2 separate regions of the Homo sapiens genome follow, and region 1 is linked to region 2. The links come from fine-mapping of genetic effects on gene expression. A gene starts in region 2. The other region holds a variant in brackets. All regions are shown on one strand. Distances are from middle to middle.

Region 1 (4,000 bases), 23 kb after region 2:
ACCAGTTCAATGGGAGAATCTCTATGCTTCTGACACATAGGCAACCATGGCTTGCTTGAATACCTTTATAGATGGGAATCTTGCTACCCTCAAGGCTGAGGGAAGAATTTTAAGGAAATACATTCCCGCACATTAAGAGTACTGCAACTAATGGCCAGGCACGGTGGCGCACGCCTGTAATCCCAGCACTTTGGGAGGCCGAGGCGGGCAGATCACCTGAGATCAGGAGTTCAAGACCAGCCTGGCCAACATGGCAAAACCCCGTCTCTATTAAAAGTACAAGAATTAGCCAAGTGTGGTGGTGTGTGCTTGTAGTCCCAGCTACTCGGGAGACTGAGGCAGGAGCATCGGTTGAACCCAGGAGGCAGAGTTTGCAGTGAGCTGAGGTCGTGCCATTGCACTCTAGCCTGGACGACAGAGCAAGACTCCATCTCAAAAAATAAATAAATAAATAAATAAATAAAAGCACTGCAACTAAGATATTCTCATCTTGGGAGTTTTCCAAGGAGTTCCAGAAGGGGCCCTTGATCAGCCCTGATAGAGAACTCCAAAGCCAGGTCATGACAGCTCTGGTCCGGCATGGCTTTCCTCCTCCGCCACTCTTCTTGACCTCCCTCTGCCCCTACCTCATCCCCACCCCCCAATCTTGGGAGCCTAGAGTGGGGCTAGGGTGGTAAAAAGTACCCCCCATGTCCCCCCTTCATTCTTGAAGCTTCCTGCCTGAAGGGGGCATGGGCTGGGGAAGAGGAGACGACGGAATCTGAGATGGAGTTTAGAGCGTTACTGATCTGCGGGCCGGCACTTTAAAAATGAATCGGTGTTTTGTGACTCAAAGTGACGGGAAGACTTGTTAGTATCCACGCTAAGTTATGGAGCCTGCTCAGGAATTTTGAGCAGGGACAGGAGAAGCACAGAGCATGTCTGCACAGACAGTGGGGTGGAGAGAGCTTGTGCTGGCAGGTCCTGTTCGTTCAGCACACCGGCAACGGTAATACCAGATAGGGTACTTTTTTTTTTTTTTTGAGATGGAGTCTCACTCTGTCGCCCAGGCTGGAGTGCAGTGGTGCCATCTCAGCTCACTGTAACCTCCGCCTCCTGGGTTCAAGCGATTCCCCTGTCTCAGCCTCCTGAGTAGCTGGGATTACAGGCATGCACCACCAGCCCGGCTAATTTTTGTATTTTTAGTAGAGACAGGGCTTCACCATGTTGGTCAGGCTGGTCTCGAACTCCTGACCTCGTGATCTACCTGCCACAGCCTCCCAAAGTGCTGGGATTACAGGCATGAACCACTGCACCCAGCCTGATAGGGTTCTTTTGAACACTAACTGCGTGCCAGGCAATGTACTCAGGGCAGGACACATAGTAACACTGTTTTTCTCCTCATCTAACAGGTGGGGAAACTGAGGCCCAGGGAGGCTCTATAGGCCCAAGGTCACACAGCCAGAATGTGGTGGAGCTGGGATTAGAACCCAGGCAGTCTGGCTCAGATGGAAAGTGCCAGAGCTGGAGAAGAGACCCATGCACACCCCGGAGGCTGCTCACTTCGGCGTTTTGTCTCCTCTCACAAAACACAAAATTAGCTACTAACCTGCCACCCCCTCATCCCACTCACACCCCTGCCCACCTCTGTCTCCCCGCCCCGGCCTCCTACCTGGACGTCTCCTCCATGCTCTGAGCTCAGCTGGGAAAAGAACTTCGAGGGGTCTGGGGTGTTACACTTCAGGACCTTCTTCAGCCTGGACAGAGGAGAGGAGGGAAGGAGGAGGGTGAGAAAGGGAAGGACCGCGGTGTTATGCCATCGGCACCACAGCTCTGGATGCCAGGCACGGAGCC[G/A]CACCACATTTACTTATGTATTTCTTCCGCCGATACTAAGTGTTCACTGTGGGAGGACGCTGTGTTGGGCACTGGGGAGACAAGAATGGCCAACAAAGGAGGTCCCTGCTCTCAAGGAGCTGACATTCTCATGGGGAGATGGACACAAAGCATGTTGCAACATCACCATTCATTCTGTGGAGACAGAGAGCACAGTGCTACACAAGACGGGGAGGTGGGGGTCGATGGGGGTGAACACACAAGCCAGAGTGGTCAGGGACGGAGATGGCTAGAAGAAGTGGAATGAACCAGGAGGCGGGAGAGAGGAGATGGGCTTTCTTGTCAGGGCTGCCATGGATGGTGGTTCAGGTTGTACACTGCCCAAGGGCATTAGGCTTGGGCAGGGAGTGGGAAAGGTGGTGGTGAGTGAGGCTGAATTCCAGCCCATGTTCTGCTTGCTAAGCTGAGTGCCTGGAAGCTGTGTACATCACCGTGAAGAAAGAGGCACCATTTTTGATTTGCCCAAAGGTTCCACACAGCTGGTGGAGGCCCTCAAGGGCCAGGGTGTACTGCAGCGCAGTGAGCGGCCTCTGAAGAGTGTTAAACAGGAGAATGACATGGTGGAGAAAGCACTGAAGGGGCGCAAGAACGACAAGGAGGAGGGCAGTCTGGAGGCCACTGAACCCATGCCTGGGAGAGGACCTCTCCCTCTACAGGGACATGGTTTCCCTGAAGGCCTGCAGGGAGCTGTGGGCGGAGGGGACGGGTGGGTGGAGGAATGCTTGTCTTCTTGGGAGGAAAGAGGAAACGGGGCTCCGAACACTGCCGAGAACCACTGCTCCAGGACGAGGGTCAGGAGAGCGGCAGTCACTCCTAACTGGCTATGTGACCTTGGGCAAGTCAGCTGACTTCTCTGGCCAGTCCTGGCATCAGTTAAAAGGCAATGGTAGCCCCTGACTCACTGCCTTCCCAGTGCTGGGGAAAGTCGAGTGAGGTGACACAGCTAGGCACGCTTTGCAAACCTCTTGGGAGAAGCAGGGCTCTCATCAGGGGGCCACAACCCCCGGTCAGAAGTGTCACCTCCTCACCGCTTTGCCCTCCACCAGGCCACGCTCCACACAGCAGCCAGGGCTACAGAGGGCGAAGTGGATCCTGTCCCACTTCTGGGGAAACCCTCCATGACTGCTCGGCACACGGCCCAGGTCCTCACCACAGCCTGAGGCCCCAGGAAGCATCACTGCCGCCACAGGCCCAGGCTCAAGTTCAGCCTCCTGCCCCACCCACTTCTGTCTCCAGCCACACCAGCGCCCCTGCACTCTGTTCCTGGAAGTTTCTTCCCTCCTGCCTGCCCAGGGCCTTTGCACATGCTGTTTCCTCTGCCTGGGACACTCTCCCCATCCCCTCCACACCCCCCATGGGCTCCCACTACAGATTTCAACAGAATCATCCCTTCCTCAGGGAAACCAGCCCTGGCCACGCCCCAGCCAAGTTTCCCCTCCCTGTTTTCTGCTCCTGATACAGTCAGCACTCAGGATCCGTGGGTTCTGCACTCACGGATTCAGCCAATCTCTGATCAAAAATATTCAGGAAAAAAAAACCCTCATAGCAATACAATAATAAAAAATAATACAAATTTTTAAAATACAGCATAACAACTATTTACATAGCATTTACATGGTATTAGGTATTATAAGTAATCTAGGAGATGACCTAAAGTCTCTGGGAGGGTGTGTGTAGGTTACACGCAAATATTCTGCTGTGTTAAATCAGGGACTTGAGGCCGGGCGTGGGGGCTCACACCTGTAATCTTAGCATTTTGGGAGGCCAAGGCGAGTGGATCACCTGAGGTCAGGAGTTTGAAACCAGCTTGGCCAACATGGTGAAACCCCGTCTGTACTAAAAATACAAAAACTTAGCAGAGCACGGTGGCGTGTGCCTGTAGTCCCAGCTACTCGGGAGGATGACGCAGGAGAATCGCTTGAACCCTGGAGGTGGAGGTTGCAGTGAGTCGAGATTGCGCCACTGTACTCCAGCCTAGGTGACAGAGTGAGACTCTATCTCACAAAAAATAAATAAATAAAATAAAACAAAAATCAGAGACTTGAGTATCCACCAGCTTTGGTATCTGTAGGGGGTAGGGAGGGTCCTGGAACTGGTTTCCATGGATCCTAAGGAATGGCAATACGTC
Region 2 (4,521 bases):
GGCCACTGCGTGTTGTCACCATGTGCCCTGCCCACAAGCCTCGCACGGCTTCCATCCACCTAGAACACAGTCCCTAAAGACCCAGGGTCTCAGTTTTCCTGTCCTCTTTGCTGAATGGGAGGTTTGCTCCTTGCTGGGCCTGGGATGTTTTCCTTTCTGCTGGCCTCGTGGCTCCCTCCTTTACCTCCTCCAAAGGGTCAGATGTCACCTCTCCAGAGAGGCCTTCCCTGGGCACTCCCGTCTCTCCTGCATTTTTCTTTATAGCAATTACAGAGGCCTAAATTGCCTGATATGCAAATATGTCATTTATCTGCCTCCTCCCTGTCTGTAAGCTGCATGAGAGCAGAGTCTGGTACTCAGCGGACACTCAGTAATTGTTAAATGAATGAATGACAAGGTCCCAGCTCCTTCCTCCCTACAGAAGTCCAAGGTGCTGTGTGCATATGTGGCCTGGCCAACTTCTCCTGCCTCCTTTTTTCCCACCCTCTCTTTTCCCCGTCGCACCCCAAGGACACTGGACTTCCATTGGTGAGAAATTTTAACAATGGGATGGTAGCAAACATTTATGGATTAAGAGCAGCCAGCCGGCACCAAGAGCCCTCGTGGACCTTGAGCCCTGTCAGTGCTTGTTCACGGCCAGGCGTCCCCACACTCTTCCTTCTGCCTGGGCCCCCACCTCCCAACCTGGCCAGCTCTTATGCAGCCCCTGTCACCTCAGTTCAGACCTCACCTCTTCGCAGCTCTCCCAGAGTGCCCTAGAAGGGGCGGCTGCCCCTCGCGATGTGCAGCTTACCTGTGGGCACTCTCTCTTTGCCCCTCACATTGAACTCCTGGAAGCGGGGACTGTGCTCCAATTGCCACAGGGGCCTGAAGCAGTCCCCCAGCTCTGAGCACCATGGACCCCACCCTGGCACCTGCTCCTCACTCCCTCCTGCCCTTCTGGCCATTGGAGGGTCTCGGGTCTGCCTGCTGGAGGCTGAGCTCCTTGGGGCGGGGCCGCGACTCCCCCAGCAATGCAGATCCGGATTCAACCACTGCGTATGAACTCCTACCATGTGCCAGCCCTGTGCTGGGCAGTGCTGCAAACTCCACTGCAGCCTCCAACAGCCTGGGGTGCCTACTTTGCTGACTCTATTTAATGGCTGGGGAAACTGAGGTAGAGAGAGGTAACATGACTTACCCGAGGTCCCTCAGCCAGGGCAGAGCAGAGCAGAGCAGGGACTCTGGGCTAGGGCCATAGGGGCATCTTTCAGTGAAACCATTAGGCCCTAGAGTCCTGAGAGTGTGGGGGACTGGGTGGGGGTCCCTTCCACACATATAAACACACTCACAGACCCACAGATGTACACAGATGGAGACACGCGGAGGGATATACGCACATCTATTCATGACACAAAAATTCATAGATGCACGCCCTTCCTACACAGACACACACACGAACACACATACACATACATGCCAACTCTGAGCCTGTGAGCCCAGGGTCCTGGGCTTAAGTCAGTACATAGGTGCAATGTGGGGCTCCGGGCCTGTCTCCTACACCAGAAGGCCCAGGTGGGGTACCGGGTGTGGAGGGGGCAGCATGTCCAGTCCTGCGAGGCAGGGGTAGGGTGGCCTCTCCCTTCCTCCTGTCCCTGCCACCTGAATCCCAGGCCACCAACCACCCAGCACTGATGCTGTGCCTGTCCACACACCTGGTGTCACCCTGCGTGGTCCCTCCCCTCCCCAGCTCTGTGGGCCCCTCACCTTCTGCTCACTGATCACCCTCTGGCCGATGAGGCCCTGCAGGCCTGGCCTCGGAGCAGGGTAGGTGGCTCAGGCTGCAGGGAGCCAGGCCCAGCTCTTAGGGTGGACACTGTCACTAGGTCATTTATAGATCCCGGTCCCCTGTCCTGGAGGCCCCCGCTTACCTTTGGGAGCGGCAGATAGGTGCCGGGCCTGCACACAGGCCTCAGGAGCCTCTGTTTGTCCAGGCCAAGGCCTCCCCACCCCCACCCAGCCAGCCCAGGCTGGATCAATGGCCTAGAGCCATGACCAGGGTGTCTGGCCCTTGTCCCCTGTGGCCTGTGGCCTCAGGCTCCATGGAACTCCTCCTGCTGGGTCCTGGACAGCACTGTGACTAAGTACAGGTAAACAGGCAGGAGGTAGGAGAAGGCAGTGCCTGCCCCGCCCCATCTTCCCCCACCCCCGCATGGGCACCCCAGAGGCTGGCAGGCAGGTGCGGGAGATCTGAGCTCTCCCCCGAGGCCCGTTGCCTGGTGACATGCCTGCCTGGTTACAGCCCCTGGTCCCCGAGAGCATGAGGTAGGGACAGCCAAGGACTGGGGACTGTGCAGAGGCCGGTGCAGGTGAGTGCAGGGGCTCACAAGGGTGAGTCCAGGTGCTTACCTGGACAGGCGAGACTAAAGGAGCTGCTGGCCTGAGAGAGAGAAAAGGAGGCTGGGCCCATATACTCTGGGGACTGGAGAGGAGAAAGGGGAGGCAGGGGTGGGGTTTGATGCTATTTTCTGTTTAGCTGGGAATTATTTGAATTCCTACCTCGTTCTTTTTTTTTTTTTTTTTTTTTTTTAAGATGGAGTCTCACTCCGTCACCCAGGCTAGAGTGCAGTGGTGTGATTTCGGCTCACTGCAACCTCCGCCTCCCGGGTTCAAGCAATTCTCCTGCCTCAGCCTCCCAGGTAGCTGGGATTACAGCGCCCACCACCATGCCCGGCTAATTTTCATAATTTTAGAAGAGATGGGGTTTCACCATGTTAGCCAGGCTGGTCTCGAACTCCTGACCTCAAGTGATTCCACCCACCTCGACCTCCCAAAACGCTAGGATTACAGGCATGAGCGACCGCACGCAGCATGAATTCCTACCTGGTTCCGTAGCGCTGTGCTGTCCATGACGGTAGCCGCTGGTCACCCGTGGCTCTTGAGTCAGTCTGAACTGAGAAAAGCTGCACGGGGGAGACGCACACCAGGTTTCCAAGGCCAAGTGCAAACAGGATGTCAACCAACGCGATAACAATTTTTATATTGATTTTATGTTGAAATAACACTGGTGATCATGGGATAAATAAAATGTATTATTAAAAGCAATTTTCTTCTGGCTCTCTTGTTTTTTTTTTTTTCAGAGACAGGGTCTCATTAGGTTGCCAGGCTGGTCTGGAGCTCCTGGGCCCACATGATCCTCCTGCTTCAGCCTCCCAAGTAGCTGGGATTACAGGCGCGGGCCACCACACCCCTTGTTGCATGTGGATATTAGACAGGTTAAGTCACAAGTGTGACCTGCGTTGTTGTTCTATGGAACAGCGTTGCTGTGGAGATGGGTTTGAGCCATATGCGTGCCGAAGTGCCGGATGGGAGCCAGGGCTTTCTAGGGTGCGTGCAGGGCAGCGGGCGTCTGTCTCAGACAAGGCTGACTTTCAGCGAGTCTACATCCTGAGGCCAGAATGCGGGGTGCACGCCTGAGATGCTGTGTGCTGTGGGCATATGGGTCCCAGAGTGTGTGTGTAAGAGAGACAGTCTGGAATTTGTGTGTGTAGATTATGTATGTGTAGAATGTGCGTGTGTGTGTGTGTGTGTGTGTGTGGAGCGTAGGGATTGTGTGTGGGGTATAAGATTTGTGTGAGAGGTGTGTCTGTGAGGTTTGTATGGTGTGGGGTGGGGGGTGTGTGAAGTGTGTTGTGTGGGCATATGGACTGTGCATGTGTGTGCAGTGTGGGTGCTGGGAATGTGCAGTGTAAGGTGTGTGTGTCTTTGAGGTACGTATGGTGTGAGGTGTGTATGGAGCATGAGAGGTGTGTGCAGCTGTGTGTGTGTGTGTGTGCATGCTCACAGTATGTGTGGAATATGAGGCATGTGTTTAGTGTGAGGTGTGTGCATAGTGTGAGGTGTGTGTGTAGTGTAAGGTGTATGTAGTGTGAAGCATGTGTGGAGTGTGAAGCGTGTGTGTAGTGTGAGACGTGTGTGGAGTGTGAGGTGTGTGTGGAGCGTGAGGCATGTGTGGAGTGTGAGGCGTGTGAGTGGAGTGTGCAGCGGGTGTGAAGTGTGAGATGCTTATGGATTGGCTGGGATGGGACAGGGCCCCGCGCCCGGGCTTTGCCGTGACCGCCGGTTTTCAGCCCTACCTGGCTCCCTTTTAGTTGTAGGAACCTGGGCAGATTCCCTGACTTCTGAGCGGTGCTTCTTCCATCTGTCGAATGAAAAAAATTCGCCCCTTCTTGATGAACGGGAAACAACGTGTGCGAAGGCCCAGCACTGTGGGGGGCGCCGAGAGCGGGTTTCTCCTCTTCTCATGGTGACACGCTGGTGTGTCGGGGCCAGGTGTGCCTGTGCACTGAAGTCCAGGCAATGACAGGTGGCATGTGTGTGGTGCCTACCTGTGTGGCCCCTCACGCATGTCTCAAGCACGTAGATGCCCCATGCTCTCTGGCGTGTGCTCCCTAAGGGGGCCTGTAGCAGTAGGCAGGTACCTCCCTGACATGTGCGTGGGGGGCACCCCTGTGTCCTAAGGTGTGAAGGCCCCTGCCCATG

Evidence for each region. PIP is the estimated chance that this variant, and not a neighbour inherited with it, causes the effect. A credible set is the group of variants that fine-mapping cannot tell apart.
Region 1: its variant is the best candidate, but not a certain one, in a credible set for the expression of TMPRSS6 in whole blood (TOPMed, PIP 0.60).

What each region holds. Positions count from the first base shown.
Region 1 is chr22:37,130,733-37,134,732 of GRCh38, forward strand. It overlaps IL2RB (interleukin 2 receptor subunit beta), which reads right to left. Exons shown (of 10, transcript NM_000878.5): 9 at 1,652-1,736. Among named protein-coding and RNA genes, the nearest start is that of IL2RB, 17 kb to the right of the region's middle. The variant G/A (reference allele first, on the strand shown) is at 1,834.
Region 2 is chr22:37,107,593-37,112,113 of GRCh38, forward strand. It overlaps TMPRSS6 (transmembrane serine protease 6), which reads right to left and starts at 2,121. Exons shown (of 18, transcript NM_001374504.1): 1 at 1,911-2,121. RefSeq lists an enhancer at 351-852.